7 linked regions of the Homo sapiens genome follow. The protein of the gene in region 1 purifies or fractionates together with the protein of each later gene. This does not show direct contact. Each region holds a gene or a part of one and is shown in the gene's direction. Other genes may lie near its edges. The genes, in order: CIAPIN1, DCTPP1, NMD3, GDA, TWF1, YJU2 and AARS1.

Region 1 (4,482 bases):
CCGTCTCTACAAAAAATACAAAAATTAGCCCAGTGTGGTAGTGCACACCTATAACCCCAGCTACTTGGTGGGGGCTGAGGCAGGAAGATTGCTTGAACCTGGGAGGTCGAGGCTGCAATGAGCTGAGATCATGCCACCGCACTCCAGCCTGGGTGACAAAGTGAGACCCTGTCTCAAAAATAATAATAATAATAATAATAATAAAATAATATCACTAAAATATATATACAATTGTCCTCATCTTACAATGGAGTTACATCCTGATAAATACTATTAAGATGAAAATGCATGTAATTCATCTAACCTACTAAACACAATTGCTTAGGTTAGCCTAGCCTACCTTAAACACGCTTAGGACACTTGCGTTAGCCTACAGTTGGGCAGAATCATCTAACACAAAGCCTGTTTATAATAAAGTGCTTAGTATCTCATGTAATTTACTGAAAACTGAAGTATACAGTTTCTACTGAATGAGTATTACTTTCATACTATCATAAAAGTTGAAAAATTATAGGTAGAACCATCATTAAGTCAAGGACCATCTGTACATTAAACAGAATAGGTTATTATTTTTTTTTTGTTTTTTCTTTGAGATCAAGTCTCACTCTGTTGTGCAGGCAAGAGTGCAGTGGTGCAATCTCGGCTCACTGCAACCTCCGCCTCCCAGGTTCAAGCGATTCTCGTGCCTTAGCTTCCCAAGTAGGTGGGATTACAGGCGTGTGCCACCACGCCTGGCTATTTTTTTTGTGTGTATTTTTAGTAGAGACGGGATTTTGCTATGTTGGCCCCAGATTGGTCTTGAACTCCTGGCCCCAAGTGATCTGTCCACCTCAGCCTCCCAAAGTGCTGGGATTACAGACATGAGCCACCACGCCCACCTGGTTATTATTGTTTGAATGCCTGCGAACCCATATAGGATTGAGCCTTTATTATTTTTCCTACTTTGAACTATAAAGCTATTAATTGGGATTTTCCTTTTGGCAGATAACAATAGCAAAGTGAAGACAGCATCTAAGCTGTGTTCAGCCCTGACTCTTTCTGGTCTTGTGGAAGTGAAAGAGGTACGTTTGTAGACAACTTTCTTTGCTGCCCTGCAGGTGAGGTAATCAGTATTGCTTAGAACTAGGAAACAAGAAATGCTGTGCATGTAAGATACATGATGCTTCAAAGGACAAAACTTGGGAGAATCGGCCGGGTGTGGTGGCTCACGTCTGTAATCCCAGCACTTTGGGAGGCCGAGGTGGGTGGATCACGAGCTCAGGAGATCGAGACCATCCTGGCTAACACAGTGAAACCCCGTCTCTACTAAAAATACAAAAAAATTAGTCGGGCCTGGTGGCAGACGCCTGTAGTCCCAGCCACTCAGGAGGCTGAGGCAGGAGAATGGCGTCAACCTGAGAGGCGGAGCTTGCAGTGAGCCGAGATCACGCCACTGCCCTCCAGCCTGGGCGACAGAGCGAGACTCTGTCTCAAAAAAAACAAAACAAAACAAAAAAAAACTTTTGAGAATAACCAACTTCAAAGAGACTCAGCTTGGCCCATGTGGGCTGGGGCTTGTTCTTGTCTCCTTGGTACTAGTTTAGTGGTGGTGACAGCTGAGGGGCATGAGCAGCAGCTCTGCTGCTTCCAACACCCACCTCTCAGTAGACCCGAATCCTAGGCCTGGGTGAACACTGCCATCTAGTTCAGCCTCACATTTTTGGTGGGAGGCTGGAATAGGTTAGAGGGCAAAGTTCCTTTTCTGACAATTCAGTGGAAATGTTTAAATTAAGCAGAAGTATTTATATTTCTACACTCTTTGATCTTAAAATTTTCTTGGATGTGGGAGAGGTAAATGTTACAGCATGATAGCTGTTGTGCCTGTTATTTCTTACATAATGTAGGGCCTTAAATTCTTTGTTTTTTAATTTTTTTTCTTGTTTTTGGAGACAGTCTCGCTCTGTTGCCCAGGCTGGAGTGCAGTGACACGATCTCTGCTTACTGCATCATCCGCCTCCTGGGTTCAAGCAATTCTCCTGCCTGAGCCTCCCGAGTAGCTGGGATTACAGGCGTGCGCCACCACACCTGGCTAATTTTTTGTATTTTTAGTACAGATGGGGTTTCGCTATGTTGGCCAGGCCGTTCTCTAACTCCTGACCTCAGGTGATCTACCCACCTTGGCCTTCCAAAGTGCTGGTATTACAGGCGTGAGCCAGGCCTTAGATTCTTTATGCCAGGCCTTAGATTCTTTATGCCAACCCTTTCTTATTTTTCCTTTTAGCTTAAGGTTTTCTGTGCTTGATTTTAAAATAAGGAATGTGTATTAGGCCATTCTTCTGTTCCTATAAAGGAATACCTAAGACTGAATAATTTATAAAGACAAGAGGTTTAATTGGCTCACTGTTCTGCAGACTGTACAGGAAGCACGGGCCTGCAACTGCTTGGCTTCTAGGGAGGCCTCAATGAACTTTTACTCGTGGCAGAAGGTGAAGCAGGAGCAGGCACATCACATGGCAAAAGCAGGATCAAGAAAGAGAGGAAGAGTCGGGGTGGGGAAGGTGCCATACTTTACAACCACCACATCTCATGAGAATTCAGATGGTGCTAAACCATTCATGAGAAATCTGCCCCCATGATCCAGTCACCTCTCACCAGGCCCCACCTCCAACATTGGGGATTACAGTTCAACATGAGATTTAGAGGGGACACATATCCAAACTATATCAGACTCCTCATAAAAATTCACTTTACACCAAAGCATACAGAATATAAAGTGACATCCCACTTCTTGCTCACACTTCCCTCCCCAGAGGAAGCCACCAATGCCTTTTTGTATGTCCGTTCAGACCTTTTCCTATGTATTTACAAGCATCTACATGCACATACTTTTTTAAAAATGTAAATAAGATCATAAGTATACATTGTTCAATCACCTTTTTTCCCACCCTTAGATATCATAGACACTTACCTACTTCAGTGTATTTCCCTTCATTCATATTAATGATGTAATAGTATTCCATACAATAGATGGACTGTGATTTATGTAACCAGTCTATAATTATTGGACATAGAGGTGGCACCCTGACCCTTTTTTTCTACCTTTACTCTCTGCTACTTTATCCCAAGGAACATAGAAAGGATTTTCCTCCCCCTTTTTCTTTTGGGATATAAATTTCTGCTGTCTTCATTGTGGGCATTCTTTCCTGTTACACAGTAGGACCACATCTGGTTCATTTTCATAATTGTATTACATCCCAAATAACTAGTATATGCCTCATCCCTAATGTTTTTTAAGTACTTTTACATTTTCCAAGGGGTAGGCTCCAAGTAAACATGCAGACAAAGGTTATACTCTAGGGTTCTGATCAGTGAGAAACTGAATGTGAGGCATAAAGTGTTATCTGTTACCATCCACTGTTACATCCTTAATGCACAGAAATGAGTCTTTGACTCCTGTGTAGGTAGACATAGTAAACCATTTTACAGAGGAGGGTGAACTAATCCTTTTGATGTCTTGAATTCTAGCTGCAGCGGGAGCCCCTAACCCCTGAGGAAGTACAGTCTGTTCGAGAACACCTTGGTCATGAAAGTGACAACCTGCTGTTTGTTCAGATCACAGGCAAAAAACCAAACTTTGAAGTGGGTTCTTCTAGGCAGCTTAAGCTTTCCATCACCAAGAAGTCTTCTCCTTCAGGTAAGGCTGGCCTAGGGACATTCTTCTGTTTGAATGGGCTTAGAGGGACATGTTAGAAATTGAGCCAGCAATAAATGAGATGGTGATATTTTTAGAGGATTAGTCCTTTGATTTCTGCCATTTCCACAAAGAAGAATACTTAATGTACTATTATCATGGGCATATTAGGATCCAAAACTGAAATAATACATAGGTATTATCTAGTTCAGCTCCTTCTTCTGCACCAGAAGATACCGAGGCCTCCTAATTTTACAGGACTGAGTCACACAGTTTAATTAATGAGGTCCTTCCAGGTCCCAGAATTAACGTTTCTCCTCAGAAGACCTCACAGTGTAGTGGTAATGGTGTATGAGAGTGCCCTGTTCCTGTTCTCATGTGCTTTTTTCCCCATGCCAGGAAAATCAGCTGTTCTTACTTTGAGGATGCTAAGACACTTATAAAACTATATTTCTTCTGACTAGAAAATTGTGTACAAGCACACGCGTGCACGCACGCGCACGCACACACACACACACACACAGCTCCATCCTCATCCTTCCTATCCCTATTTTTAAATGCCTGAATTGACCCAGCTGTGAGGTATGCAGACATTAACAGATATTTACTGGTACATTCCCACTTGTACGGTTTTGACTGTCTAACCTAAATCTTCAAGAAATCCTTTGGAATCTAACCTTTCGATTCATGGTTCCAGAATGGGTAGGAATAGCTTAGAACAGTTGGCCTTGTGGAAGGTATGAGCATCCAGCTGTGACAATGATCACTAGAGGGTACTCTTACCCCAAGGGCCTGCGAGGATTTGCCCACAC
Region 2 (5,208 bases), about 27 Mb from region 1:
CACACCATTCTCCTGCCTCAGCCTCCTGAGTAGCTGGGACTACAGGTGCCCGCCACCACACCCAGCTAATTTTTTGTATTTTTAGTACAGACGGGGTTTCACCGTGTTAGCCAGGATGGTCTCGATCTCCTGACCTCGTGATCCGCCCGCCTCGGCCTCCCAAAGTGCTGGCATTACAGGCGTGAGCCACCGCGCCCGGCCTCAGTTTCCTTATCTTTAAAATGGGGATGACAACAATATTACCTACCATATAGGGTTTTTGTGAGGATTAAATTAGTTGCTATGAGGATTAAATATGTAAAATGCTTAAAACAGCCACCCCAGTTCCAGTTCATTCCTGAGGTCCCACTGTATTCTGGAGACACTCTTGTATCCTTACAATAAATTCCTTGTGGCCGGTGGGGGTGGCTCGTGCCTGTAATCCCAGCACTTCGGGAGGCCAAGGCAGGAGGATTGCTAGAGCCCAATCCAGCAATCCTGGTTCAAGACCAGCTTAGGCAACATGGTGAAACCCTGTCTCTATAAAAAATTTAAAAAATAAAAATAATAGATTTCTTTTTCTTGCTAAAAGCAGTTTAAACTTGTTTCTGTTGCATGTATCCAATCTTAACTGCTGGATAATATCATTTGTATAAATATACTTCCATGTAGCCATTCTTCCGTTGATAGTCATTTTATTTTCAATTTTTTTCACTCTTAGAAACAAAACTGTAATGAACTTCTTGCATGTGTCTCTCTGCACATATTCATTAATTTCTCTAGGGCATATACCTAGAATTGCAATTGTCACAGCCTTGGGATTTTAATTTCCAAAATCTGACTCTGCCTCTTCCTGCGCTTTCTTACGCTTTCACTTCCAGCAAGCTGGAAGCCTCTTTAAACGTGGAAATCAGAGATAGTAGCCCTAATAAGGGTACAATAATAAATCATTCTTTGCAAGACTACACCTGTTCTAGGGTTTCATAAAGATCTCTGCTCCTCCCATGGCCAATAACTCAGTGGTTCTGATTTGAAAGCAGCAACCCTGTGACTCGCCACCTCGCGTATTCCCTGGTGTGAGTGGAGCCTGGAGTTCTCGTGTGTGGGGTGGAGGAGCCGTGCTGGGGACCCATGAGGCTGGAGAGGCCGGCACAGGCCAGACCATAAGGGGCCACGTGTTTCAGGGCAATGTACGTTGCGCTGGGGCCTACTGCCTCCCTTAGGACAGGGATGGGGCGACCTCCATCGTTTCAACCACAGGACACAGCGATGGCGGGGAGCTGAAGTCCTACTGCCGTCTGATCTTACTCCGCTCTTCCCCTTCAATCCCATCCAAATAGTGTGGGGGTTGGCCTCGAGGTTTCTCAACGTCCTTAAGCCCTGATTTAATACCTATGCATAGGGCCTTTCATTTATAGGGTTTTCCACCTGACGGGCCCTCTTCCGCTGCCGTTTCGCTTTGGCGCCCTCTGGCGCCCATAAACGAAGTGACGCGCCTGCGCTTCCCCCACCCTCTGCCCTTCGTCTCTTCCCCAGGTCGAATTGGTACCTCTACCTTTAGACACAGGGCCTAGCGGAAGAATTCCAGGGCCTAAGACTAGAAACGCGCGCTTGAAGCTCCCTCAGATTGGTCCAGTGAGGGAAGGGGAGGGCTGTAGCAAACTCCACAAAAGTCATTGGTCTCTTTCCTCAGGCTCCGCCCCGTGAGGCAATAGAGAACTCCCGTAATTGGTCGGAGCTCTGGAGGCGGGGCTTCGAGCGTGGCTCGTGGGTTTTCCGTGAAGTCGCGGTGCAGCGGTGGGCGGCATGTCTGTGGCCGGTGGGGAGATTCGTGGGGACACGGGGGGAGAGGACACTGCTGCTCCCGGCCGGTTCAGCTTCAGCCCGGAGCCCACGCTCGAGGACATGTAAGCAGGCCTGGCCCAGCTCGGGGTGGGGAAGTCGCCCCTTTCTCCCGCGTTTTGGGGAGGGTTCCTCCACGTGGTCGGGAAGCGGGCTGGCAGCGGGGCTCGGGTCCTGGCTCTGTGGGCTGTCCCTGGGTGAGCCTTCTTACCTCATCTGCAAAATGGGCGCAGCGGTGCACACCTGAGGCAAGGGAAATTGGGTGGTGCCTCCGAGTGGTAACTAGGAACGCCCTTCAGCCTAGCCCTGGGAAGATACCGGCACCAGATACCGCCTCTGCTCTCCAGGCGCCGGGGGTACGAGAGGGGCAAACGAAGTGCTGAGAGGTGGGAGACGTTATTTTTTGCTGGAGGAGGTCAAGAAAGGCTTCTTAGAGGAAGGGTCTGTGGAACTACCTTCTGTAAGAGAAATTGCATTTTGATGTGCGGCGATTCCAGGTGGAGGAAACTGCAGAAGTAGCAGCAGGAGATGGAATAATGAAGAGGGTTTTGTTAGTTTTGGCGAGATGTTAAGGGCAGTTCAGGGGCACGCCCATTTTATAGATGAGGGAACCAAGTTCCGGAAAGAGGAAATGACCTGCACAATACCATCCAATGAATTAGTTGCAGAATCTCCTGGTCCCAGGCCCCATTACATACTACGGGGGTAGCTGCCTCTGGCCCCTGCATCACCCTCTAACCCGGAGACTTGGACTTACACTCCTTTGTCCTATTTCAGCCGCCGCCTCCATGCTGAGTTTGCTGCGGAACGAGACTGGGAACAGTTCCATCAGCCTCGGAATCTCCTCCTGGCCTTGGTTGGGGAAGTGGGGGAGCTGGCAGAACTCTTGTGAGTAGATGGAAAGCTTCCTGGTAGAGTCTGAGTTGTGGGGGAGGGGAGGGGAGCATTTATTTGGTCTTCAAACATTCATGGGTTCAGTTTCCCCTCCTGATTGCTAGGCTCTTTGCTGTTGTTGGGATGCAGAGAGGACTCACGGGTCCCTGCCCTCTAGGGGCACTCAGCCTCCTGGAAGAGAGAGGTGTGAGGTGTGAAAGCATCAGGACAGGTCCCGTCTAGGAAGAAGCAGTGGCAACAACCCTTTTCCCTTCTTTTGTTTTTTGTTTTTTTGGCTTTTTTTTGAGACGGGGTCTCGCTCTGTCGCCCAGGCTGGAGTGCAGTGGCTCAATTTCGGCTCACTGCAACATCCGCCTCCTGGGTTTAAGCAGTTCTGTCTCAGCCCCCCGAGTAGCTGGGACTACAGGTGCCCCCCACCACGCCTGGCTAATTTTTGTATTTTTAGTGGAGACGGGGTTTCACCATATTGGTCAGGCTAGTCTCAAATTCCTGACCTCAGGTGATCCACCCGCCTTGGCCTCCCAAAGTGCTGGGATTACAGGGGTGAGCCACCACGCCTGGCCCAACAACCCTTTTCCTCTGCCTCTGGGGCTGAAAGGAAGGTATTCTGTAGAGGACCTGCCTGTGGCATTCCAGACATGGGAACTACATTTGCAGGGGCAGTGAGGCAAGAAAGGGCAAGTTCAATTCAGGGAGAATCTGACGCTCCTTCATTGTAAGCATCTCAGGAAAAATCAGGGATTTGGGATCTGTTTTCTCTGATGTGTCCCAAGTGCCCAGCGCATAGTAGGCGCTCAATAGGCACACGTTGGATGAGTGATAGGGCTGTGGAGGAGAGGGGTGGGAGTTGAACCCACAAAGATATGATTAGGGCTAGAGTATGATGGAGAGTTTGGACAGAAGACCTGACCAGATATGAGTGTTGGAAAGGTCACTGTGTCTACAGGGTGGATTGGATGGATCACTGAGAGAATGGGGCAGGGGACACCAGAGAGTTGGCTGGTGTAGACCAGGCAAGAGGCGATGAGCCCTAGACCAGGACAGTCATTTTTTTAAGAGAAAAGGTCTCACTCTGTTGCTGAGGCTGGAGTGTACTGGTGTGATCATAGCTCACTGAAGCCTCAGGAGCTCAAACGATCCTCCCACCTCAGCCTTCGGAGTAGCTGGGTCTACAGGCGTGCGCCACCACCAAGCCTGGCTAATTTATTTTTACTTTTTGTAGAGATGGGATCTCTCGCTGTTGTTGCCCAGGCTGGTCTCAAACTCCTGGTCTCAAGTGATTCACTTGCCTCACCATCCCGCAGCACTGGGGTTACAGGTTGAACCACTGCACATGGCCTCATGACAGATTTATGAACATCACCTATGTGCTAGGTCTTCTAGAATTGAGATATGGCCTGGAACAAGGCAGAAAGGTTTCCACCTTCACAGTGGAAGGAGATTGACAGTAAATCAGTAATCTCATATTAGAAGATCTGGAATTATGACAAGTTCTATGAGGAAAAGAACACAAGGTGATGACCCAGTCTGGCCAACATGGTGAAACCCTGTCTCTACTAAAAATACAAAAATTAGCCAGGCATGGTGGCGGGCGCCTGTAATCCCAGCTACTCAGGAGGCTGAGGCACAAGAATCGCTTGAACCCAGGAGGCAGAGACTGCAGTTAGCCAAGATCACACCATGGCACTCCAGCCTGGGCGACAGAGCAAGACTCTGCCTTAAAAAAAAAAAACAAAAAAGGGGCTGGGCGGGGTGGCTCACACCTGTAATCCCAGCACTTTGGGAGGCTGAGACGGGCAGATCATGAGGTTAGGAGATCAAGACCATCCTGGCTAACACGGTGAAACCCCGTCTCTACTAAAAATACAAAAAAATTAGCCGGGCGTGGTGGCGGGCGCCTGTAGTCCCAGCTACGCAGGAGGCTGAGGCAGGAGAATGGCGTGAACCCAGGAGGCGGAGCTTGCAGTGAGCCGAGATCGCGCCACTGCACTCTAGCCTGGGCGACAGAGCAAGGCTCCGTCTCAAAAAAAAAAAAAACCCAACGAAAAAGGTCCAGGTGCGGTGGCTCACACCTGTAATCCCAGCACTTTGGGAGGCCGAGGCAGGCAGATCACCTGAGGTCAGGAGTTCAAGACCAGCCTGGCCAACATGGTGAAACCCTGTCTCTACTAAAAAATACAACCATTAGCTGGGCATGGTGGCACACCCCTGTAGTCCCAGCTACTCGTGAGGCTGAGGCAGGAGAATTGCTTGAACCCTGGAGGCAGAGGTTGCAGTAAGCCAAGATTGTGCCACTGCATTCCAGCCAGGGCGACAGAGCAAGACTCCGTCTCAAAAAACAAAACAAAACAAAACAAAAAAGACCAGCCTGGCCAACAGGCTGAAACCCTGTCTCTACTAAAAATACAAAAATTAGCCGGGTGTGGTCACAGGCGCCTATAATCACAGCTACTCAGGAGGCTGAGGCAGGAGAATCGCTTGAATCCGGGAGGC
Region 3 (4,482 bases), on another chromosome or scaffold:
GAACATTTGGCTTTTTGTGGCCCATTGGAACATTTAGTTTGAATATGAATTTTAACCAATTTTGTTATTACTGTAGATCATTTTTTAACATTGTCTATAGAATAAATTATTTTTTAAGGAAGACCACATTTTGGTAGGTATCTTAGTATTTGGATGTATCTTCTGCTTGATCTTTTTCATGTATTTTCTGTAATATAAGTTTCCTTTATACAAAAAGTGAGTTTATTTTGATATTTTTCAAAGTCATTCATTATCTTTATCAGTTAGGATTCATAAGTTAAAGATCTGTTAGCAATATTGGGATGGACATTCTTTACCTATCTGGTAGAACTAGGCTTTATTTCCCATAAACTAAGCAGCTAAGGTGACAGATACGTTTCTAAAATAAAGTGCCAGCACGTGAAACAGCTGTACCACTGATTGGCTCTGATCTTACTTAAGAGGCACTTAGCCCTGTGGCATTCTGGTTATAGTAACTATTTAAGATATGTTTGACATCTGATATATTTTTCTTGTGCTTTGAGAAGTTTGGGATTGGTTTATAGGAGTAATTGATGACCCTAAGGAGTGAGTTGACACTAGTTCTGTTGACCTGCCACTTCCCAGTTGGTATCTACCAGTTTATTCTTAGTTAATACATTTGATAATTGAAATATATAATTTTTCTTATGTTTTTGTGTTCTATCCTTATTTTTAGTGGCAGATATTGATGGGAGCACTTTCTGGAGTCACCCTTTCAATAGTTTATGTCATCCCAAACAGCTAGAGGAGTTTATTGTGATGGAATGCAGCATAGTCCAAGATATAAAACGTGCTGCAGGTGCTGGAATGATATCAAAAAAGGTAAGCTACATCCTGCCTGCCAGTGTATTTTTTTTTCCCCTCAGTTATTATTGTTTCAGTCCCTCTTTTAAAAAAAATTTGTTGGTGTTTCCACAGTATGGAATCCAAACTTAGCACCACATTAGGAAAAAAATTCTTTTTTTTTTTGTCTTTTTAATATGTGGTCATTGTGGAAATTGTTAGACTTAGACTGTTAAGTTAATTTATTCTCTTTTGTGTAGGAAAAATCTTTTAAATGTTTATTCCATTATATTTAAAAAAGGCATTTCTTTGCTTTATTTTTATAGAGGAGGACCTTTATTTTTGTAGTGGTTATCTTGACTTTTAAAAAGTCATCACCAAATACTAAATACTTCAGTGTGCATCTCTCACACACAGGAATATTTTTCTACATAATGAAAATGTTGTTACCATACCTATAAAACATACAGTCTACACAGTATTCTGCTCTTATCCATGGGGATACATTCCAAGACCCCCAGTGGATTTTTGAAACAACCCACAATAGTACCAAACTCTATGTGTATTGTTTTTTCCTATACATACATACCTATGATAGAGTTTAATTTATAAATTAGGCACAGTAAGAGATTAACAATAATTAATAATAAAATAGACCAATTATAATAATATACTGTAATAAAAGTTGTGTGAATGTAGTCTCTTTCTTAAAGTTATCTAATTCTACTCCACCAACCTGTTTTTGGATAGCGATTAACTGTGGGCAGATGAAAACTTTGAAAGGGAAACTATGGATAAGGGGGGGATTACTGTGTTCAGATTTCCTCATTTGTCCCAAAAGTGTCTTTTATGCCTTGTTCAAACAGGTATTCAATTGGAGACCACTCATTAAATGGGAATATTATACCTTTTTAGTCTTTTATTTAATAATAGTCCCCTTCTTTTTTCTTTTATTGGTTATGATACCAACTTCCTTAGACAACTAGTGCATTTATCTTGTAGAATACTCCACCTTCTAAATCTATCTAATTGTTTCCTCATGATGCCATTTAACTAGCTTCTTAATTCATTGTGTTTCCTCTAAACTGGAAAGTTGATCTAAAGGTTTGGTTACATTTAGGTTAAATTTTTCTTGCCAGAATATTTCAGAGATGATGCCATGTACTTTTTATTATATCAAGAGACAAGTAATGTCTGACTGTTTCACTTGTTAACATAGTGATAGTCAGATTCCTCCATTGTAATGTTATGATTTTTTTTCCTTCTGACCAGCAAGCAATCTGTGGCTTAATACTATAATAATATGCAAGTACTGAGTTCCTGTTACCTCTTTTTTTTTCTGGCTTTAGCATCTGTTGATAATTCTTGCCCATAAATTAATTATTTTATTCAGGGTTACAAAATGGTGAATTTTCTATTTCTATTCTACATTTACTAGCTGTCATTCTTAAAGAAGAGCTTTTCATTATTAACTAGGGGTTATGTAGCTTTCCTGAAATGCTCGCCTGCATACATTCTTTTAATTAATTAATTTTAGACATGATCTTGCCGTGTTGTTTGGGCTGGAGTGCGGTATGGCTTCATAGCTCACTGCAGCCTCAAACTCCTGGGCTCAAATGATCCTCCTGCCTCAGCCTCCTGAGTAGCTGGGACCACAAGTATGTGCCACCATGCCCAGCTAATTTTTTAATTTCTTTGTAGAGATGGGGTCTCCATGTTACTCAGGCTGGTCTTGAACTCCTGAGCTCAAGCAATCCTCCTGCCTTGGCCTCCCAAAGTGTTGGGATTACAGGCGTGAGCCACCTCCCCTGGCCTATGCATAAATTATTAATTCTTTTAGCAAATATTTTTAGAGTAAAGAGTTGATCTAGGAATCATTTCCAGTGGTGAAAATTAGCTTACATGTACAGGTGGTGTCTCTCTTTGTGATTATCATTGTGATCTCCTGAAGTATAAGTATTGTATCATTTACTGTATTTTCTTTTGTTTTCTTCTTCTCTCCTCCTCTCCCTTCATTTCTTTTCCTTTTTTTTTTTTTTTTTTAAAGAGACAAGGTCTCACTCTGTCTCTCAGAGCTGGAGTTCAATGGTATGATCATAGGTCACTGGAACCTTGAGGTTGTGTGCTCCAGTGATCTTACCACCTCAGCATGCTGCCACACCTGTCTCATTTCTATTTTTTAATTTTTTGTAGAGTCAATCTCACTGTTTTTTCAGGCTTGTCTCAAACGATCCTACTGCCTCCCTTATAGGAATGAGCATGAGCGCCTGCCCTTTCTTTTTTTTGAAATCCTCATATTGCCCTAAATTTATTCAATGGGAGCCCCTTCAGAATGGTTCCTATGTTGTTTTGACGTGACTCTCCTGGTCTTTGAAAGCATCCTTGATTTCTGGTGCAACACAGCATTCAGGTGTTCCAGAATCACATGTATAGTTTATAACCCATATCTGAAATCAAATGTTTCTTCAAAGATGAAAGTCTGGCTTCTTTTACTGTGAAATAGTATCTAGAGACTCCCAGGGTACCCTTGTGTGTGTGTGTGTGTGTGCGTGCTAATAATGCTTCTTGAGACAAAAATAACTTGTGATAATTTGGGAAAAATTAATGGAAATGGAAGACAGATGACATTCTACATTTTATTTATAAATTAAGGTAATGTACTTAGGGCAAACTTTTCATTTATAATAAATGTAGAGTATCATTTCCCTTCAGGCAGATATAAAACCAGATACTGTATTTTCTTGGTTTTTAAAAAATAGCTAGAAGAGGTTAATAAATTTCTTACAAGCAGAAGTCTAATAGCTAGAAAGTAAATCCTGTTAAATAAAATGTAGTCTCCCTGTTAATTGACTTTTCTTTTGCAGTTCTTAAGTTTGAGACTTGTCTTTTATTTCAGTTTCTCCTTCTGCTCTATTTCTTTTCATTTTTTTCATTTCTTTTTCTTTGACCAACTGCAATAAGAAACACTTGATTCTTTTCATAACTTTATTTTGAGATTCCTTAATTTTATTTATAACTCTTAGTATTTTTCTCTCGATCTCACTTCAGTTGGTCTGTCTTTGTTGTTAAAGGTGTTGGCATGTTAGAAAGGGAATTAATAGTTTTCTAGTTTAAAAATTGGGATGTTGTTTCTGCTATATATATATTATATATAGCAGATGTACTATATTATATATAGCAGATGTAGAGAATGATTGTAGTCTACACTAGTAGATACTTTAAAAATTAATTTGATAAAGATTTGGCCTCTCTAGTGGTTTACTACCAGGATTTCTAGGCTGTTTTGTCTGGACCCTGATTTTCTGAACCCTTGTGTCAAGCAAGAGTTTGCTTGGAATACGTTCTTGCTTTAAGATTCCCCTACCTTTTCAGTTATTTTGTTCACTCTGCCTATGTTGGCCCATCTTCCTGTGAAAACATTTCTTTTGAAAATTCTACATATATATATTTTTAGGGACATTATTAATGTTTTATAAAAGTCTTGAATAAAATCTTAGAAAAAGTCAATGATTTATTTTTATGAATTGTTTGTGAGTCTTTCTATACTCATGATTCAGTAATTTGTTAATTTTGACAGTGTTTCATACATCAGAAAAATACAAAAAATTTTCTGTCTTTAAAAATTAGAAAACCAAAAATCAATATTGTATTTAACTTTTCTCTGAGATGCTTTTAGAG
Region 4 (4,482 bases), on another chromosome or scaffold:
TTTGTATTTTAAGTAGAGTTGGGGTTTCAATGTGTTAACAGGATGGTCTTGATCTCCTGACCTCGTGATCCCCCTGCCTCGGCCTCCCAAAGTGCTGGGATTACAGGCGTGAGCCACCGCGCCGGCCAATGATCTGTAAATTTTTACTCCTAAATTTTTAGGAGCTCAAACCTTGCAATGAATCAGAAATATCTAGGGGTGCTTGATAATATGCTGATTTCTGGGCATCATCCTCAGAGACTCTGAATCTATAGACCTGGGGTAGGCCCCAGAAAGTGGCATTCCAACAAGCATCCCAGGAGATTCAGACGCAGGTAGCGGGTGGATTATAGCAGCGGGTGGATTACATTTTGAATAACTGTAACACATAGTTTCTGTGATGGGACAAGCTGTGTGAAGTATCAGGAGCTTATTTCTCCATTGCAAGTTTAGATCTGGGGTAGAATCTCAGCGAGAGGGCACAAAGCTTACTCTGTCCTTCTGGTCTCGCTTTTAAACTTTATTCCTTATTTTGTATAACTTCGTTTAGGCCCAGAGAATGCCAATGACTAACTGCTCTTAATACATTAAATTAAAGCTCATTCAAAAGCAGGTTAATTAAAAGAAATTATCTAGCCAACTTTTTGGTATAAAGCAAAATACAGAGTTATACTTTCTGCTCAAGTAGCATGTAGCTTTTAAGAATATAGACTCTAATGATTGCCATTCTAACTGGTGTGAGCTGATATCTCATTGTGGTTTTGATTTGCATTTCTCTGATGGCCAGTGATGATGAGCATTTTTTCATGTGTCTTTTGGCTACATAAATGTCTTCTTTTGAGAAGTGTCTGTTCATATCCTTTGCCCACTTTTTGATGGGGTTGTTTGTTTTTTTCTTGTAAATTTGTTTGAGTTCATTGTGGATTCTTGATATTAGCCCTTTGTCAGATGAGTAGGTTGTGAAAATTTTCTCCCATTTTGTAGGTTGCCTGTTCACTCTGATGGTAGTTTCTTTTGCTGTGCAGAAGCTCTTTAGTTTAATTAGATCCCATTTGTCAATTTTGGCTTTTGTTGCCATGGCTTTTGGTGTTTTAGACATGAAGTCCTTGCCCATGCCTATGTCCTGAATGGTAATGCCTAGGTTTTCTTCTAGGGTTTTTATGGTTTTAGGTCTAACGTTTAAGTCTTTAATCCATCTTGAATTAATTTTTGCATAAGGTGTAAGGAAGGGATCCAGTTTCAGCTTTCTACATATGGCTAGCCAGTTTTCCTAGCACCATTTATTAAATAGGGAATCCTTTCCCCATTGCTTGTTTTTCTCAGGTTTGTCAAAGATCAGATAGTTGTAGATAGGCGGCATTATTTCTGAGGGCTCTGTTCTGTTCCATTGATGTATATCTCTGTTTTGGTACCAGTACCATGCTGTTTTGGTTACTGTAGCCTTGTAGTATAGTTTGAAGTCAGGTAGCGTGATGCCTCCAGCTTTGTTCTTTTGGCTTAGGATTGACTTGGTGATGCGGGCTCTTTTTTGGTTCCATATGAACTTTAAAGTAGTTTTTTCCAATTCTGTGAAGAAAGTCATTGGTAGCTTGATGGGGAGAAATAGGAATACTTTTACACTGTTGGTGGGACTGTAAACTAGTTCAACCATTGTGGAAGTCAGTGTGGCGATTCCTCAGGGATCTAGAACTAGAAATACCATTTGACCCAGCCATCCCATTACTGGGTATATACCCAAAGGACTATAAATCATGCTGCTATAAAGACACATGCACACGTATGTTTATTGTGGCACTATTCACAATAGCAAAGACTTGGAACCAACCCAAATGTCCATCAATGATAGACTGGATTAAGAAAATGTGGCACATATACACCATGGAATACTATGCAGCCATAAAAAATGATGAGTTCATGTCCTTTGTAGGGACATGGATGAAATTGGAAACTGTCGCAAGGACAAAAAACCAAACACTGCATGTTCTCACTCATAGATGGAAATTGAACAATGAGAACACATGGACACAGGAAGGGGAACATCATACTCTGGGGACTGTTGTGGGGTGGGGGGAGGGGGGAGGGATAGCATTAGGAGATATACCTAATGCTAAATGACGAGTTAATGGGTGCAGCACACCAGCATGGCACATGTATACATATGTAACTAACCTGCACATTGTGCACATGTACCCTAAAACTTAAAGTATAATAAAAAAAAAATATAGACTCTAACATGTTTAATTCATTTGCAAATATTTAATCTTGAGGTAATGCATGCTCAAATATTACTAAGTTGCCTGATTCTTCCCACATACATCAGGGTCAGGTTGACAGTAAAGATGCATAAACATGCCTTGGGCCTTTTAATGCACACTTACCCAGAAACAAGAGTGAGGAAGAGATTCATTTTGAGGTTGTGTCCTGGGGTGGCAGGAGCAAGTCCAATGGAGGAATAGAGACTTGGGTTCAGGTCAGAGTCTCTACCACTTACCTGTGCTGAGACCACAGGTGAGACCTAACCTGCCTGAGCCTCCGTTTCCTCATTTGTAGAGTCAGATTTCCTTTTGCTATTTATTAAATGAGATAATGTATGAAAATGCCTGGCACTTAGTGGATACTTAACATGTACCATGTTCATTCTATTCCCTTTGCCTCCTAGCAAATCCTTAACCTCTTGCTCACTGTGATATTTTGCATGTTTTCACATGGTGACATGCCAAGTGGTAGAGAAGGAAGCCACGGCCTGTGATGAACTGTATGGGGTGGTCACAGAACCTTAGCTTTTTATTCTCACTGCTTATGTCATTGATCCCCTGGGACCCAAAGATGCACCCTGGAAGAAAGATCAAGAAGCATTTGGTGCTAGATTCACTAGCAAGCTATCTTTAGTATCTCTTTTAGACTTGACAATGTCATTATTTCCACTAACAGATGAGGAAGTTGAGACTTGAGAAGTCATGCATTCAGATACGGTGGTGGTGTAGCTGGATTTTGAATTAGTATGGGGCAAAGGCCATGTTCTCTTTACTGTCGCTGACTGCTTCTCTAGGGCACAGTCCTGGACCTCAAAGAATCTGCACTTTGGCACGGGAGCTAAGACTTGTAGCTGTAATAAAAGTGACTCATTCCTGAGCCAAACACTGGGGTTTTCACCGGAGATAAATTGATGAACAAAGTATGCAAATACTGCCCTGCCCTCTTGAAACTGATGATCTAGTAATAAATTAACAGAATCTGCCATGACCTATCAGAACTTGAACTAGTTAGGGGAAGGCTTTCCCTAGCGTGAAGTGACATCAAACTTGCGATGTGAACAATGAGAAGTTAAGTAGGTATATTAGTCAATTTTCACATTGGTGACAAAAACAACCTGAGACTGGGAAGAAAAAGAGGTTTAATTGGACTTACAGTTCCACATGACTGGGGAGCCTCAGAATCATGGCAGGAGGTGAAAGACACTTCTTACATGGCGGCAGCAAGAGAGAATGAGGAAGATGAAAAAGCGGAAACTCCTGATAAACCCATCAGATCTCGTGAGACTTATTCACTACCATGAGAACAGTATGGGGGAAACTGCCCCCATGATTCAAGTTATCGCCCACTGGGTTCCTCCCACAACATGTGGGAATTAGGGGAGTACAATTCAAGATGAGATTTGGATGGAGGCACATCCAAACCATACCAATAGGTAAGGTGGACAGCATTGGAAGTAAAGAAGAGCCTTCTAGGTTGAGAGAACTGCCTGTGACTGCCTGTGCAAAGGTCCTGGGGTAGGAAGGAATGAAACAGTCAAGGTAGTCAGAGTCCAAAGGTTGAGGAGAAGGCTAACACAGGATAAGGCAGGACAGGTAGGCAGGGCTATGTTATGGAGGGCATCGGGGATGGTGGGATTGTGTCATGATTATATTTTGTGGTTATAAAGGTCTAACTTCAGGATAAATGCATTGAAGAGAAGTTGAGTGCAGGCAAGGAGGTCAGATAGGAGCCTGTTGCAGTATTTAGGTAAAATGGAATGTGGTTTAGATGAGAGAGGCAGTGTAGTTATCAACTGAGATATGAACTCCTAAGAGTACCTCTATCACTTATTACCTATGTGAATTTGATCAAGTTCCTTACCATTTGTATCTCCAAATTTCTTTATGCATAAAATAATTACTATGGTCTACCTAATAGGGTTGTTGAAAGGATAAAATGGATTAGTAAGTGTAAAATATATAGAATAATGCCTGGCATGTAGTACATGTCCATTAGACTTCAGCGGTTATTGTCAGTAATGCAGATGGAGAGGTGGATAGAATCAGTAGCTATTTAGATCAAGTTGACTGGATTTGATGATAGCTTACATATGTAAGGTTGGAAGGTAAGTGCATCAAGAGTGATCGCAAAATGTATGTAAATGTGTGTAAATAGTACAGTGGGGCACAAGTTGACCAGTGATAGGAAAAGCTTCTTGAAGGAAGTAGTAGCTGAATTGGACCTTTTAGGACTGGAACATGCAAAAGA
Region 5 (4,482 bases), on another chromosome or scaffold:
AAAAACAAAAAAAGTGACATTGTAAATTGAAGTCCATCTTACTAACCATTGATAGTTTAGATGCCCATGTTAATGACGGTTATTTGTACACACGTATTTTAGCATATTATAGTGGGTGGACTTCAGCTCAGTTTTGTTTTTAATGTGATTCAGGATATTAATATATTCAGAATGTGCTTGCTTTTGTAATGTTATGTTTTCATCTATAAACTAAGTAAACTTTCACAACTGAATAGGTTCGTCAAAAAATGTTGTATGCAGCAACAAGAGCAACTCTGAAGAAGGAATTTGGAGGTGGCCACATTAAAGATGAAGTATTTGGAACAGTAAAGGTATTATGTTTGTATGTGGATTCTATATGTTGCAATTAAAATGATTAAAGAGGAACTCCTAGGTAATGGGTAATTGATACGAATTCAGATGGATAATCTGAAAACATGAGAATAAGAGAAATACTGTATTTCATATAATATTAAAGTTAGCTGTAATGAATATGTAACTTTGAGTTTATTCATTTGTATCTATTTGACATTGACAAGTGATATTGAAACATACTGATTCTTCTAAAGTATATGGTAAATATATGTATTTACACATATATACACAAATTGAAACACTGAAATATATTTTTGAACTTTTTTGTTTGTTTAGAGCTTTTCTGATTCAGAAAGTCATATAATCTAGTGGATAGAGCACAAGACTAGATGGGAATATATTGCTTCTTCACCATTAATTGTGAAGTGGGCTGGTTTCTTAATTTCATGAGTCTCAGTCTTCTAAACCACAAAATTTTGATGATAGGTAGACCTCTTTGTAGTATTTTTTTCTTTTGACATGAAAACTATAATAATTTTCCATGAATAATTACAAAGAAATTATATTAAGCATTATAACATAGTATTCAGAATCTGAATATGTTGATTATTGGATAATCATTGGGCAGTTTTCTCCAGAAGGTTAATTACAGTTGTCCTATAGACTTACAGGATGACCAGGTTCAGTATTTCACTTTGCCAGTATGAAACTCATACAAAATATTTAGTAATTATAAAGCTTCATATAAAATGAACAGTGGGTACTCCCCTTAAAAAGTTTTGAAACTTAAAATTGAGGATTAAAGAAAAGTAAAAAGATATTAAAATTCATAATGCTATTTATTTTCATTTAAAATCTTTTCTGTTAATGATTTTGTTTTTCCTAAAGTAACTTCACTGTCATTTTACTTCTAGAGAATTACTGATTATAGTCTATTCTGTACTTACAGGAAGATGTATCATTACATGGATATAAAAAATACTTGCTGTCACAATCTTCCCCTGCCCCACTGACTGCAGCTGAGGAAGAACTACGACAGATTAAAATCAATGAGGTAAGTTACAACTACAAAGTCTTTGCAAGATTTTAAGTGTTTGAAAATACTGTATTTTTAATTAATAGATGTGGGAGGATAACTAGAGATTAAAGAAGTTAGGTAGCTTAGGTTTATTCCGTTTAGTTTAGAGATAAGGCTATGTGCTTAATGCCTTTTCAGAAAAAAAAAGTTAAAATGAATATTAAACTTTATATGCATTTTATAAATAGCTTTTCCTATAATCTTCATGTCAGAATAGTAAATCTTCCTTTTGAAGTACAACTGTTGTGAACTTTGTACTTTGAATATTATATAGAGAAAAAGTGTGTGTTACCCATTTAGTGCAAAGAATGTATCTAATAAGGTTGCCTGAAGCAGATTATTGTTTTGTTGGCTTTCTAGAGAGTCTACAAATTAACTTCTATGAACTCTACTTGAATAGAGATATATATGGAAGATTATTATTTGAGTACCTGTTGAGCATATTAGAGTCAATAAATTTCAGCCATATTATTTTGTAGTTTATCATTATTTTTAATGTGTTTTCTACAGCCATTCTAACATACTGGAATAACTACTGTATTTCTACTGGGACTTTACAGAAAAGAACAAGTGGCTGAAACCACTATTCATTAGCTGAAACCACTGTTCATTAGCCTGAGTCACAGACAGTAGGAATCAGTCTGGAGAATGGTTGAATATCATTTAATATTAAACTGGTAGCAAGGATCTATCATATTATTTTAATTCATATTATTTGAGTAGGGCTTTTTATGTGATTTTTTTTTTTTTTTACGAGTTTGATAGTTTGTTTTATTTCTTGCAATCAGAGCCCAGAGGATCATATTGGGGTATGCATTCGCATATGTTCTATGATGTTTTCATTAACCAATATCATTTATGCTGTAGAATCTCCATTCATTTTTTTAAAAGTAAAATTTCTATTGGACTTTCTGTTGCAACACTGCGAATGAGACTCTCTACTAGCTATCATTTATCAAGTATAAAAATCTTAAACATGTGCATTGAATGCTTTCTTATCTTTCTCCTCTTCCAGTACATGCACACCATGTTCTTAGTAAAGAAATCTCTTAAGTCTGGAACTTCTGCAGTAGTATAACTTGTTGAGCTGTGTTGTCTTTGTACACTGTTTGTACTCCTTTCAATTCAGTGCATGATGTTTGTGTTGCATTTTCTGTCCAACAGAACAAAGTAAAGTTCTATACATATTGTATGTAGATTGTTGTTTATAAATTCTATCAAGTAAAATTTTACAATCAGTGGTGTAATCTGATGACACTCTAAAGAAATTGTGCCAAACCAAACATAAAAACAAACCCACCCAAACCCCACTAACTGTACACTCATTCAAATGTTCACTTCCAACATTGTCGTAAAGATGTGTCATGCACTCTGCATGTTGACAAAATGCTAGCAGGACCGTAAACAAATGTGAAAAATAATTTTAATTATAGGTTGGGCTAGGGTTGAATGATACTATTTTATAGAGGTTGGGTTTTCTTATGTTTGCCATAGGATACTGCTAACTGCTAAACTTGTAAATTAAATCTGTCATACTTAGGTACAGACTGACGTGGGTGTGGACACTAAGCATCAAACACTACAAGGAGTAGCATTTCCCATTTCTCGAGAAGCCTTTCAGGCTTTGGAAAAATTGAATAATAGACAGCTCAACTATGTGCAGTTGGTAAGAGATGTATAATGATTATTAAGTGGCTGCTCTTTTTGGTAGTTTATGACTCATATAGGGTTTATTATTAATGGATTTTACATTTTAAATAGCTTTCTGATTTCTAAAATTCATTTTGTAAATGTTCATTGTGAAAAAGTCAAACCATCCAGAACTAAGTTCCTCCTTTATCTCTTGGTCTTTTTATTATATGTTTTAACTTAATTTCCTTATATCTGGTTTTAATGAACATATTTTGTTTCTTATTGGCAGGAAATAGATATAAAAAATGAAATTATAATTTTGGCCAACACAACAAATACAGAACTGAAAGATTTGCCAAAGAGGATTCCCAAGGATTCAGCTCGTTACCATTTCTTTCTGTATAAACATTCCCATGAAGGAGACTATTTAGAGTCCATAGGTATATGATACATTGTTTTTAACACATTACTTTCAGTTTGTTTATTGGTGTATCAGCCCTATATTCTTACTTATTTCTTGCCCAGAGGGCTTAGCTGTAGTTTTATGAAGTTTCTGTACTTGTTTTTATGAAGTTTATATATGTAGTTTTATGAAGTTTATGTATTGATATGCTAATTATATTTGTTATTATTTGAACTTACAGTTTTTATTTATTCAATGCCTGGATACACATGCAGTATAAGAGAGCGGATGCTGTATTCTAGCTGCAAGAGCCGTCTGCTAGAAATTGTAGAAAGACAACTACAAATGGATGTAATTAGAAAGGTAGCCCACCTATTTTAAAATCTTCAGTTTTTGCTAAATTTTTCTTTTCATTTCTATGTAGTTTATGATGTACTGTGATTTATAAATGAAAATATTTATTTTTCTTGTTATCATCCTAAATCCTTAGGATCTCCTCTAAGTGCCTGGGAACTACCTGTCATGATCCCCATCTCTATATATATCTGTACTTCCTAGTAAGCCACATGTGGCTATTTAACTTTAAATAAGATTTAAAGTTCTGTTTCTTAATTCCACTAGCCTTATGTCAAATTCTCATTAGCTAAATGTGGCTACTGGCTACCGTATTGGTTAGTGCAGAATTTATAGGACATTTCCATCAGTGCAAAAAGTCCTATTGGACAGCGCTGCCAGAGCTGCATACTTGTGATTATTTCTACTGCATATTAATAAGGAATTACAGTCTCCATTATGACTGAATTATGGGATGGTTGGGAGTCTTTCCAGTTTGGGGGAAGGAAGGAATAAGCATAAACATTTGAATTTTGGGAACTAAGCTACCAATTTTCTTAAATTTTCTTAAGTACAGATAAGGCATGGGGAAAGATATATATTCTTGAGCCCTTAAACTCATAAAAATACAGGTCCTTAAAAACTACCAGTGTTTTTAGGTTCTGAACCCTTCATGCTTTTTAAGTTCCTAAGAATCAATCACTTTATCATGGGTAGCACC
Region 6 (3,736 bases), on another chromosome or scaffold:
TGGTGGCGAAGGAAACTGTGAGATGCATCCTCCAGCTGGTCCGTGCCTGGCTGTGCTGCCAACTAGAACGAAGGGAGGCCGGGCACCGTGGCTCAAAGTGCTGTAATCCCAGCACTTTGGGAGGCCGAGGCAGGCGGATCATCTGAGGTCAGGAGTTCGAGACCAGCCTGGCCAACATGGAGAAACCCTGTCTCTACTAAAAATACAAAAATTAGCTGGACATGGCGGTGCCTGCCTGTAATCCCAGTTACTCGGGAGGCTGAGGCAGGAGAATCACTTGAACCTGGGAGGCAGAGGTTGCAGTGAGCTGAGATTGTGCCATTGCCCTCCAGCCTGGGCAACAGAGTGAGACTCTATCTCAAAAAAAAAAAAAAAAAAAAGGAGGAAGGAGTTTTGGTGGATGACCAGCATTTTCCACCACAGCTGACTCATCCAAGGTGGCCTCAGCCACTCTGGTTTGTTCATTGAAGAAGGTGGTAAAAGTAGGGGCTCATAAACCAATAACACAGACACACAGAAACGATTGTTCTCGGCCGGGCGCGGTGGCTCACACCTGTAATCCCAGCACTTTGGGAGGCCAAGGCGGGTGGATCACGAGGTCAGGAGATCGAGATCATCCTATCTAACACGGTGAAACCCCATCTCTGCTAAAAATACAAAAAATTAGCCGGGCGTGGTGGCGGGCGCCTGTAGTCCCAGCTACTCAGGAGGCTGAGACAGGAGAATGGCGTGAACCCAGGAGGTGGAGCTTGCAGTGAGCCGAGATTGTGCCACTGCACTCCAGCCTGGGCGACAGAGCGAGACTCTGTCTCAAAAAAAAAAAAAAAAAAAAAAAAAGAAACGATTGTTCTTTCTTCCTTTTTTGTTTGTTTGTTTGACACAGGGTCTTACTCTGTTGCCCAGGCTGGAGTGCAGTAATGCAGTCCCAGCTCACTGCAGCCTGAACCTCCTAGGCTCAAGCAATCCTCCCACCTCAGTCTCCTGAGCAGCTGGGACCACAGGCACGCACCACCACGCCTGGCTAATTTTTCTTTTCTTTCTTTCTTTTTTTTTTTTTAGACAGTTTCACTCTTGTTGCCCAGGCTGGAGTGCAGTGGTGTGATCTTGGCTCACTGCAACCTTCGCCCCCCGGGTTCAAGCGATTCTACTGCCTCAGCCTCCCAAGTAGCTGGGATTACAGGCGCCTGCCACCATGCCCGGCTAATTTTTGTATTTTTAGTAGAGATGGCGTTTCACCATGTTGGCCAGGCTGATCTAGAACTCCTGACCTCAGGTGATTCACCTGACTCGGCCGCCCAAAGTGCTGGGATTACAGGCGTGAGCCACTGTGCCTGGCCCCTAATTTTTCAAATTCTTTTTGCAGAGATGCGGTCTTGCTGTGTTGCCCAGGCTGGTCTCACGCACCTGGCCTCAAGCAGTTCTCCCGCCAAGGCACAGGGATTACAGACATCAGCCACCATGTCTGGCCCCAAGACATTTTTCTAAAAGACATTTTCTTTGAAGCTGTGTCCTCTGATTAGAGTTCTCACACTGTGGTTCTCACATAAACCACTCCCAGAATTCATTGTCTACAACTTCCTCTCTTCTTTTCTTTTTTTTTTGAATGAATCAACAGAGTAAAGGTACTTTGAAAGCAGTCCAACCTTTTTTGATTTACTCCCTCAGTCTTGTGCCTCTACCTGATTTGATAGCAGGTGTTTTATTTGGTTTTAACGTGATTCACCTTCATCAAGACTTTTCAAACCTTCACCCTAACTTTTATAGGAAGGAATATCTCCACACTTGCGTTTTCTTGGTTTATTTTATTTTTATTTTAGAGATGAGGTCTTGCTCTGTCACCCAGGCTGGAGTGCAGTGACGCGATCACAGCTCGCTGCAGCCTCCAACTCCTGGGCTCAAATGATCCTCCCACCTCAGCCTCTCAAGTAGCTGGGACCCACAAGTGTGTAGTGTGTGCCACCACAGCCAGCTAATTTTTAATTTTCTTTTCTTTTTTTTTTTTTAGAGGCGAGTCTGTATGTTGTCTAGGCTGGTCTCAAACTCCTATCCTCAAGCAGTCCTCCCGCCTTGGCCTCCCAATCCTTAGTTTAGTTTAATGATGATGAGTACCACCTGTAGAAACAGGTTTGGGAACTAACCTAGGTAACTTTTTTTTTTTTGAGACGGTCTTGTTCTTTCGCCCAGGCTGGAGTGCAGTGGCACGGTCTCGGCTCACTGCAACCTCCGGCTCCCAGCCTGTAGCAATTGTCCTGCCTTAGCCTCCTGAGTAGCTGGGATTACAGGCGTGTGCTACCACACCTGGCTAGGTTTTGTATTTTCTTTTTATTAATAAAGAGACGGGGTTTCACCATGTTGACCAGGCTGGTCTCGAACTCTTGACCTCAAGTGGTCCACCCGCCTCGGCCTCCCAAAGTGTTGGGATTACAGGTGTGTGCCTCTGTGCCTGGCCATCTGTGCCTTTTGACTTCTTTTCCTCATTTTGACATCAGCCCAGAGCTACGACATTTTTTTTTTTTTTTTTCGAGACGGCGTCTCGCCCTGTCACCCAGGCTGGAGTGCAGTGGCACGATCTCGGCTCACTGCAACCTCTGCCTCCCAGGTTCAAGCGATTCTCCTGCCTCAGTCTCCCGAGTAGCTGGGATTACAGGCGTGTGCCACCAAGCCTGGCTAATTTCTTGTATTTATAGTAGAGACGGGCTTTCACCGTGTTAGCCAGGATGGTCTCTATCTGACCTCGTGATCCACCTGCCTTGGCCTCCCAAAGTGCCGGGATTAGAAGCATGAGCCACTGCGCCCGGCCCAGAGCCACAACTTTAAGGAGGCCTCTCCACCACCTTAGCAGTGGCCGCCCCTCACACCGTCAGCTTGGCACTCAAGGTCTCTGCCCATTCTCCATCCCACCTAGCCTGCCCTGGCACTTCCTGAATCACACTGTGGCTTCTCATCACGCCTTTACCCATGCCATTCCCCTTACCTGGGATGCCCCCTTTGCCAAGCACTCGCTTGGTGAACTCCTACTCGCCCTTCAATACCCAATGCAAGACGCCCTTCCTCTGAGAAGCTCATCCTCACAATTCAAGCTCACGCACCCTGGCTTCTCTCTCACCCAGATGGATGTTATCCTGGGTATTGGTCTCCTTGTCCCTCTCCCTCCCCACACGGTGAGCTCCGTGAGGGCAGAGCACCCATTGGGACTTCCTTAACCCAGTGGTTACCACTTCCTCTATTTAAACATAAAACAGATTGAAGAGGCTAGATGCAGTGGCTCACGCCTGTCATCCCAGCTCTTTGGGACGCTGAGACGGGAGGATCGCTTGAGCCAGGAGTTTGAGACCAGCCTGGGCAACATAGCGAGATCCCGTCTCTACAAAAATTAAAAATGTTAGCCTGCCATGGTGGCGTGCACCTGCAGGAGGCTGAGGCAGGAGAATCGCTTGAGCCCAGGAGTTCGAGGCTGCAGTGAGCTATGATTGCACCACTGCACTCCAGCCTGGGCAATAGAGTGAGACCTTCCCCCCAAAAAAATTTTTTTAATAATATAGATTAAAGGGTCCCTTCTGTTGCAGTTAAGGAGCTGGAGGCCTTTTCTACCTGCCCCTAACTCTTTCTCAAGGCGGCTTCCTCCATTTTCACTCGTTCTCTCAAGTACATTGAGCACCTCCTTGTGCCAGGAACTGTTTGTGGCACCGCAGAGCCAGCAGTGGGGAAGACAGGAGCTCACGGCAGAGTTGGGGAG
Region 7 (4,482 bases), about 13 Mb from region 1:
TGCCTGTAGTCCTAGCTACTCCGGAGGCTGAGGTGGGAGGAACACCTGAGCCTGGAAGGCCAAGTGATTGCACCATTGCCTGCGCTCCAGCCTGGGTGACAGAGAGGGAGACCCTGTCTCAAAAAAAAAAAAAAAAAAAAAAAATTCCTGTGGAGTGGCTGGAGCCACAGCGTGATTTAAGGCACCCAAGACCTTTACAGCTCCTGTTAGTAAGTGAAACCTGAGGTTCTGCCTTTGTGCTACCTCTGTATCCCATATAGCCCTCCAGTGAATAAATCAATGAGTTTATGTTGAATAAATATATTGAATTTATATCGAATAAATATAAATTTAGATTGAATAAATAAATGGGGGTAAACAAATGAATGTGGGGATACAGCTTTTAATAGTTTCAGCCTTCATAGACTCATAGTTAATATATTCAGTCCTTTTACACAATACTGCAGTTAATTCTGCATATGATAGTCTCCTCAGGAAGGACATAGGCTGTCATTCATTTTGATTCTTGGCACATAGTATGCATTCATTATGGTGAATTAGTAAGCAAAAATGGGAAATTCATGTGTCTTTTGGAAAGTAGCTGGAGTCAGGATCTCCTGTTCACTTTGTACATCTCTATTGTATTTTCCTCATAAGGAGAAAACTTTGGCTGGGCATGGTGGCTCATGCCATCCCAACACCTTGGGAGATTGAGGCCAGGAGTTCGAGACCAGCGTGGGCAGCATGGCAATACTCCATTTATAACAAAAACAGAAATTAGCTGGGCGCGGTGGCTCATGCCTGTAATCCTAGCACTTTGGGAGGCTGAGGCTGGCAGATCACCTGAGGTCAGGAGTTCGAGACCAGGCTGAGGAACATGGTGAAACCCTGTCTCTATTAAAAATACAAACATTAGCTGGGTGTGGTGGCACTTACCTGTAATCCAGGTTACCCAGGAGGCTGAGGCAGGAGAATTGCAGGAACTTGGGAGGTGGAAGCTGCAGTGAGCTGAGATTGCGCCACAGCGCTCCAGCCTGGGCGACAGAGTGAGACTCTGTCTCAAAAAAGAAAAAAAAAGAAATTAACTGGGCATGCTGGTGTGCAACTGTAGTCCCAGTTACTTGGGAGGCTGAGGCAGGAGGATTACTTGAGCCTCGGAGTTTAAGGCTGCTTAAGTGATTGTCCCACTGCACTCCAGTCTGGACAGAACCAGAAAAAAAGAAGAAAACTTTCAGCTAAACAACTTAAAAGTAATATTATCCATTCTGTTCCTTCAAGGTTTTCCTTTTTTTTTTTTTTTAGACGGAGTCTCCCTCAGCCACCCAGGCTGGAGTGCAGTGGCGCAATTTCGGCTTACTGCAACCACTATTTCCCAGGTTCAAGCGATTCTCCCATCTCAGCCTTCTGAGTAGCTGGGATTACAGGCACTCGCCATCATTCCCGGCTAATTTTTGTATTTTAGTAGAGATGGGGTTTCACCATATTGGCCAGGCTGGTCTTCAACTCCTGACCTCAGGTGATCCACCCACCTTGGCCTCCCAAAGTGCTGGGATTACAGGTGTGAGCCACCGCACGTGGCGTAACGTTTTCCATTTTATAGATTGCTTCCAAATACAGTATAGCTTTTGATCCTCACAACACCTCAGTTGAGTAGGCAGGGTAGATACTGCTTTTTTACAGAAAAGGAACTGAACTCAGGCAAAAGTGAATTAAGGTTACGGTTGGGTCTGGAATTCCAGAGACTTTTTGATAATAATGATAATATTGTGAATAAGATGGTTCTCATTTTTCTAGACACAGCAGTTTGTGGCACTACAGCACCATGCCAGTGATCAGCACTCTCACCAAAGCCTGTCACTTCTCCCCAGCCTACCTCTCAGGGAAATCGTAATATCTGTGAAAGAGCTGTTTTTGTTTTTGTTTGTTTGTTGACACAAGGTCTCTGTCGCCCAGGCTGGAGTGCAGTGGCATGATCTTGGCTCACTGCAAGCTCCGCCTCCTGGGTTCACGCCATTCTCCTGCCTCAGCTTTCCGAGTAACTGGGACTACAGGCGCCTGCCACCATGCCCGGATTATTTTTTGTATTTTTAGTAGAGACGGGGTTTCACCATGTTAGCCAAGATAGTCTTGATCTCCTGACCTCGTGATCCGCCTGCCTCGGCCTCTCAAAGTGCTGGGATTACAGGCGTGAGCCACCGCGCCCGGCCATTTTTGTTTTTTTTGAGACGGAGTCTTGCTCTGTCACCCAGGCTGGAGTGCAGTGGCGCGATCTCGGCTGACTGCAACCTCCACCTCCTGGGTTCGTGCCATTCTCCTGCCTCAGCCTTGTGAGTAGCTGGGACTACAGGCGCCTGCCACCACGCCCGGCTAATTTTTTGTATTTTTTTTCTAGTAGAGACAGAGTTTCACCATGTTAGCCAGGATGTTCTGGATCTCCTGACCTCGTGATCCACCCACCTGGCTAATTTTTTTACTATTTGTACTGACAAGATCTTGCTATGTTGCCCAGGGTGGTCTCAAACTCCAGGGCTCAAGCAATTCTGCCACCTCGGTCTCCCAAAGTGCTGGGATTACAGGCGTGAGCCACCGCGCCCAACTTGTGAAAGAGCTTTGAAGTCATAAAGTTTTTTCTCTCTCCACCAGTTCCCTTGTACTTTCACTTTCAGTAAGCTGTGCCTCCAAAGTGGGGCTACAGCATCCCCACTCCCTGGTAATCTAATGGCTGGAAGGCAGCCGTTTGCTGTTAGGGTTCTTGGGGGATGTAGGCTACATAGAGGTAGGTACATTCCTGCTACATACAGGTGGTCCCTTGTACAGATAGGCCCATCCCCAGGACTATTGCTGCTGACAGCCGCCTCACCATGACATCAGGCCAAACCTAGAGACCCTGACTTTGGGGCTAGTGGAACTTTGCAGTTCTAGGCGTGTACATTAACACAGAGCTGAAGGGATCTTTAGAGATAATCTCATATGGACCCCTCCTTTTTTTGGTGAAGTGACTCCCTCAGGACTTGAAGCTAGAACTCAAACCCCGGTCTCCTGAGCCTCTCTCCCTCTTCCCCAGTTGGACTAAACTGAGGGTTTTTCTCCCCCTTTTTTTCTTTTTTTTTTTCCTTCTTTTTTTGTTTTTTTGAGACGGAGTCTCTCTCTGTCGCCAGGCTGGAGTGCAGTGGTGTGGTCTTGGCTCACTGCAACCTCCACCTCCTGGGTTCAAGCGATTCTCCTGCCTCAGTCTCGCAAGTAGCTGGGATTACAGGCACGCACCACCATGCCCAGTTACTTTTTGTATTTTTAGTAGAGATGGGATTTCACCATGTTGGCCAGGCTGGTCTTGAACTCCTGACCTTGTGATCTGCCCACCTTGCCCTCCCAAAGTGTTGGGATTACAGGCGTGAGCCATCGTGCCTGGCTGTCCCTCTTTTTTTCTAATTCCTAGTCTCGGGCCTGACACAGAGCAGATGCTCGATACATATTTGTTTAATGAACAAACATCCAGCAGCAGTGTGCTTGGTGTGCTGGGGTGTTGAACCTCTTGAGGTTGGCATGGGAAGGAAGAACAGATGGGGCTGCTGTCTGCTGGTGATGATGATTTTAGCCTTGGACATTACAACATAGAGGTTTTAGGATCAAACAGCTCACCTGAGTCGTGCTTTGACTTGGCTTGAGAAGCCAGAAGTCTTGTGTAATGTGTACTTTGACTTTCAATTCCCTTAATTTTCCTTCATTTTTTTTTCTTTGATTAGTTCTTTGGGGTGACTTTCAAGATGGACTCTACTCTAACAGCAAGTGAAATCCGGCAGCGATTTATAGATTTCTTCAAGAGGAACGAGCATACGTATGTTCACTCGTCTGCCACCATCCCATTGGATGACCCCACTTTGCTCTTTGCCAATGCAGGCATGAACCAGGTAAGGGTTTTTCCTTTTTTCTTGGCTTTTGGTTCACATAAGAGGCAGCAGAGCCCAGATAAAAGCACAGCCCTGGGGTCAGACCGATTCTGGTTCTGTCACTCCCTGTGTGATCTTGTGAAACTTTATGTGATGGGCCTCAGTTTCTTTGCAAAATGAGGAATAATATTGCGGGCCTGTAGGTATTAGTGAGAAGCGAATAAGATAACACATACAAAATGTTTAGCACGGTATTTCGCACATAGTACGTAGGTACTCAAACATTAGCTTTTTTTTTTTTTTTTTTTTCCTGAGACGGAGTCTCGCTCTGTCATCCAGGCTGGAGTGCAGTGGTGCAATCTCGGCTCACTGCAAGTTCTGCCTTCTGGATTCACGCCATTCTCCTGCCCCAGCCTCCCGAGTAGCTGGGACTACAGGTGCCCGCCACCATGCCTGGCAAATTTTTTTGTATTATCATTATTTTTTTTTGAGACGGAGTCTTGCTCTGTCGCCCAGGCTGGAGTGCAGTGGCGTGATCTGTGCTCACTGCAAGCTCCGCCCCCCAGGTTCATGCCATTCTCCTGCCTCAGCCTCCCAAGTAGCTGGGACTACAGGT

What was found.
Region 2: the proteins of CIAPIN1 (region 1) and DCTPP1 fractionate together in Homo sapiens (co-fractionation; one large-scale study listed by BioGRID). This does not show direct contact.
Region 3: the proteins of CIAPIN1 (region 1) and NMD3 fractionate together in Homo sapiens (co-fractionation; one large-scale study listed by BioGRID). This does not show direct contact.
Region 4: the proteins of CIAPIN1 (region 1) and GDA fractionate together in Homo sapiens (co-fractionation; one large-scale study listed by BioGRID). This does not show direct contact.
Region 5: the proteins of CIAPIN1 (region 1) and TWF1 fractionate together in Homo sapiens (co-fractionation; one large-scale study listed by BioGRID). This does not show direct contact.
Region 6: the proteins of CIAPIN1 (region 1) and YJU2 fractionate together in Homo sapiens (co-fractionation; one large-scale study listed by BioGRID). This does not show direct contact.
Region 7: the proteins of CIAPIN1 (region 1) and AARS1 fractionate together in Homo sapiens (co-fractionation; one large-scale study listed by BioGRID). This does not show direct contact.

Annotation. Positions count from the first base shown.
Region 1 is NC_000016.10:57,433,235-57,437,716, reverse strand, and holds part of CIAPIN1 (anamorsin), read left to right. Parts: intron 1-984; coding exon 985-1,061; intron 1,062-3,504; coding exon 3,505-3,673; intron 3,674-4,482. UniProt on the Homo sapiens protein: Component of the cytosolic iron-sulfur (Fe-S) protein assembly (CIA) machinery required for the maturation of extramitochondrial Fe-S proteins.
Region 2 is NC_000016.10:30,426,558-30,431,765, reverse strand, and holds the start of DCTPP1 (dCTP pyrophosphatase 1), read left to right. Parts: upstream 1-1,735; 5' UTR 1,736-1,785; coding exon 1,786-1,886; exon of another isoform or gene 1,887-1,911; intron 1,912-1,965; exon of another isoform or gene 1,966-2,177; intron 2,178-2,598; coding exon 2,599-2,709; intron 2,710-5,208. UniProt on the Homo sapiens protein: Hydrolyzes deoxynucleoside triphosphates (dNTPs) to the corresponding nucleoside monophosphates. Has a strong preference for dCTP and its analogs including 5-iodo-dCTP and 5-methyl-dCTP for which it may even have a higher efficiency.
Region 3 is NC_000003.12:161,241,811-161,246,292, forward strand, and holds part of NMD3 (60S ribosomal export protein NMD3), read left to right. Parts: intron 1-697; coding exon 698-843; intron 844-4,482. UniProt on the Homo sapiens protein: Acts as an adapter for the XPO1/CRM1-mediated export of the 60S ribosomal subunit.
Region 4 is NC_000009.12:72,151,775-72,156,256, forward strand, and holds part of GDA (guanine deaminase), read left to right. Parts: intron 1-4,482. UniProt on the Homo sapiens protein: Catalyzes the hydrolytic deamination of guanine, producing xanthine and ammonia.
Region 5 is NC_000012.12:43,796,285-43,800,766, reverse strand, and holds part of TWF1 (twinfilin-1), read left to right. Parts: intron 1-236; coding exon 237-332; intron 333-1,264; coding exon 1,265-1,369; intron 1,370-2,181; coding exon of another isoform or gene 2,182-2,202; intron 2,203-2,933; coding exon 2,934-3,059; intron 3,060-3,314; coding exon 3,315-3,465; intron 3,466-3,669; coding exon 3,670-3,791; intron 3,792-4,482. UniProt on the Homo sapiens protein: Actin-binding protein involved in motile and morphological processes. Inhibits actin polymerization, likely by sequestering G-actin. By capping the barbed ends of filaments, it also regulates motility.
Region 6 is NC_000019.10:4,263,450-4,267,185, forward strand, and holds part of YJU2 (splicing factor YJU2), read left to right. Parts: intron 1-3,736.
Region 7 is NC_000016.10:70,282,025-70,286,506, reverse strand, and holds part of AARS1 (alanine--tRNA ligase, cytoplasmic), read left to right. Parts: intron 1-3,722; 5' UTR 3,723-3,743; coding exon 3,744-3,887; intron 3,888-4,482. UniProt on the Homo sapiens protein: Catalyzes the attachment of alanine to tRNA(Ala) in a two-step reaction: alanine is first activated by ATP to form Ala-AMP and then transferred to the acceptor end of tRNA(Ala). Also edits incorrectly charged tRNA(Ala) via its editing domain.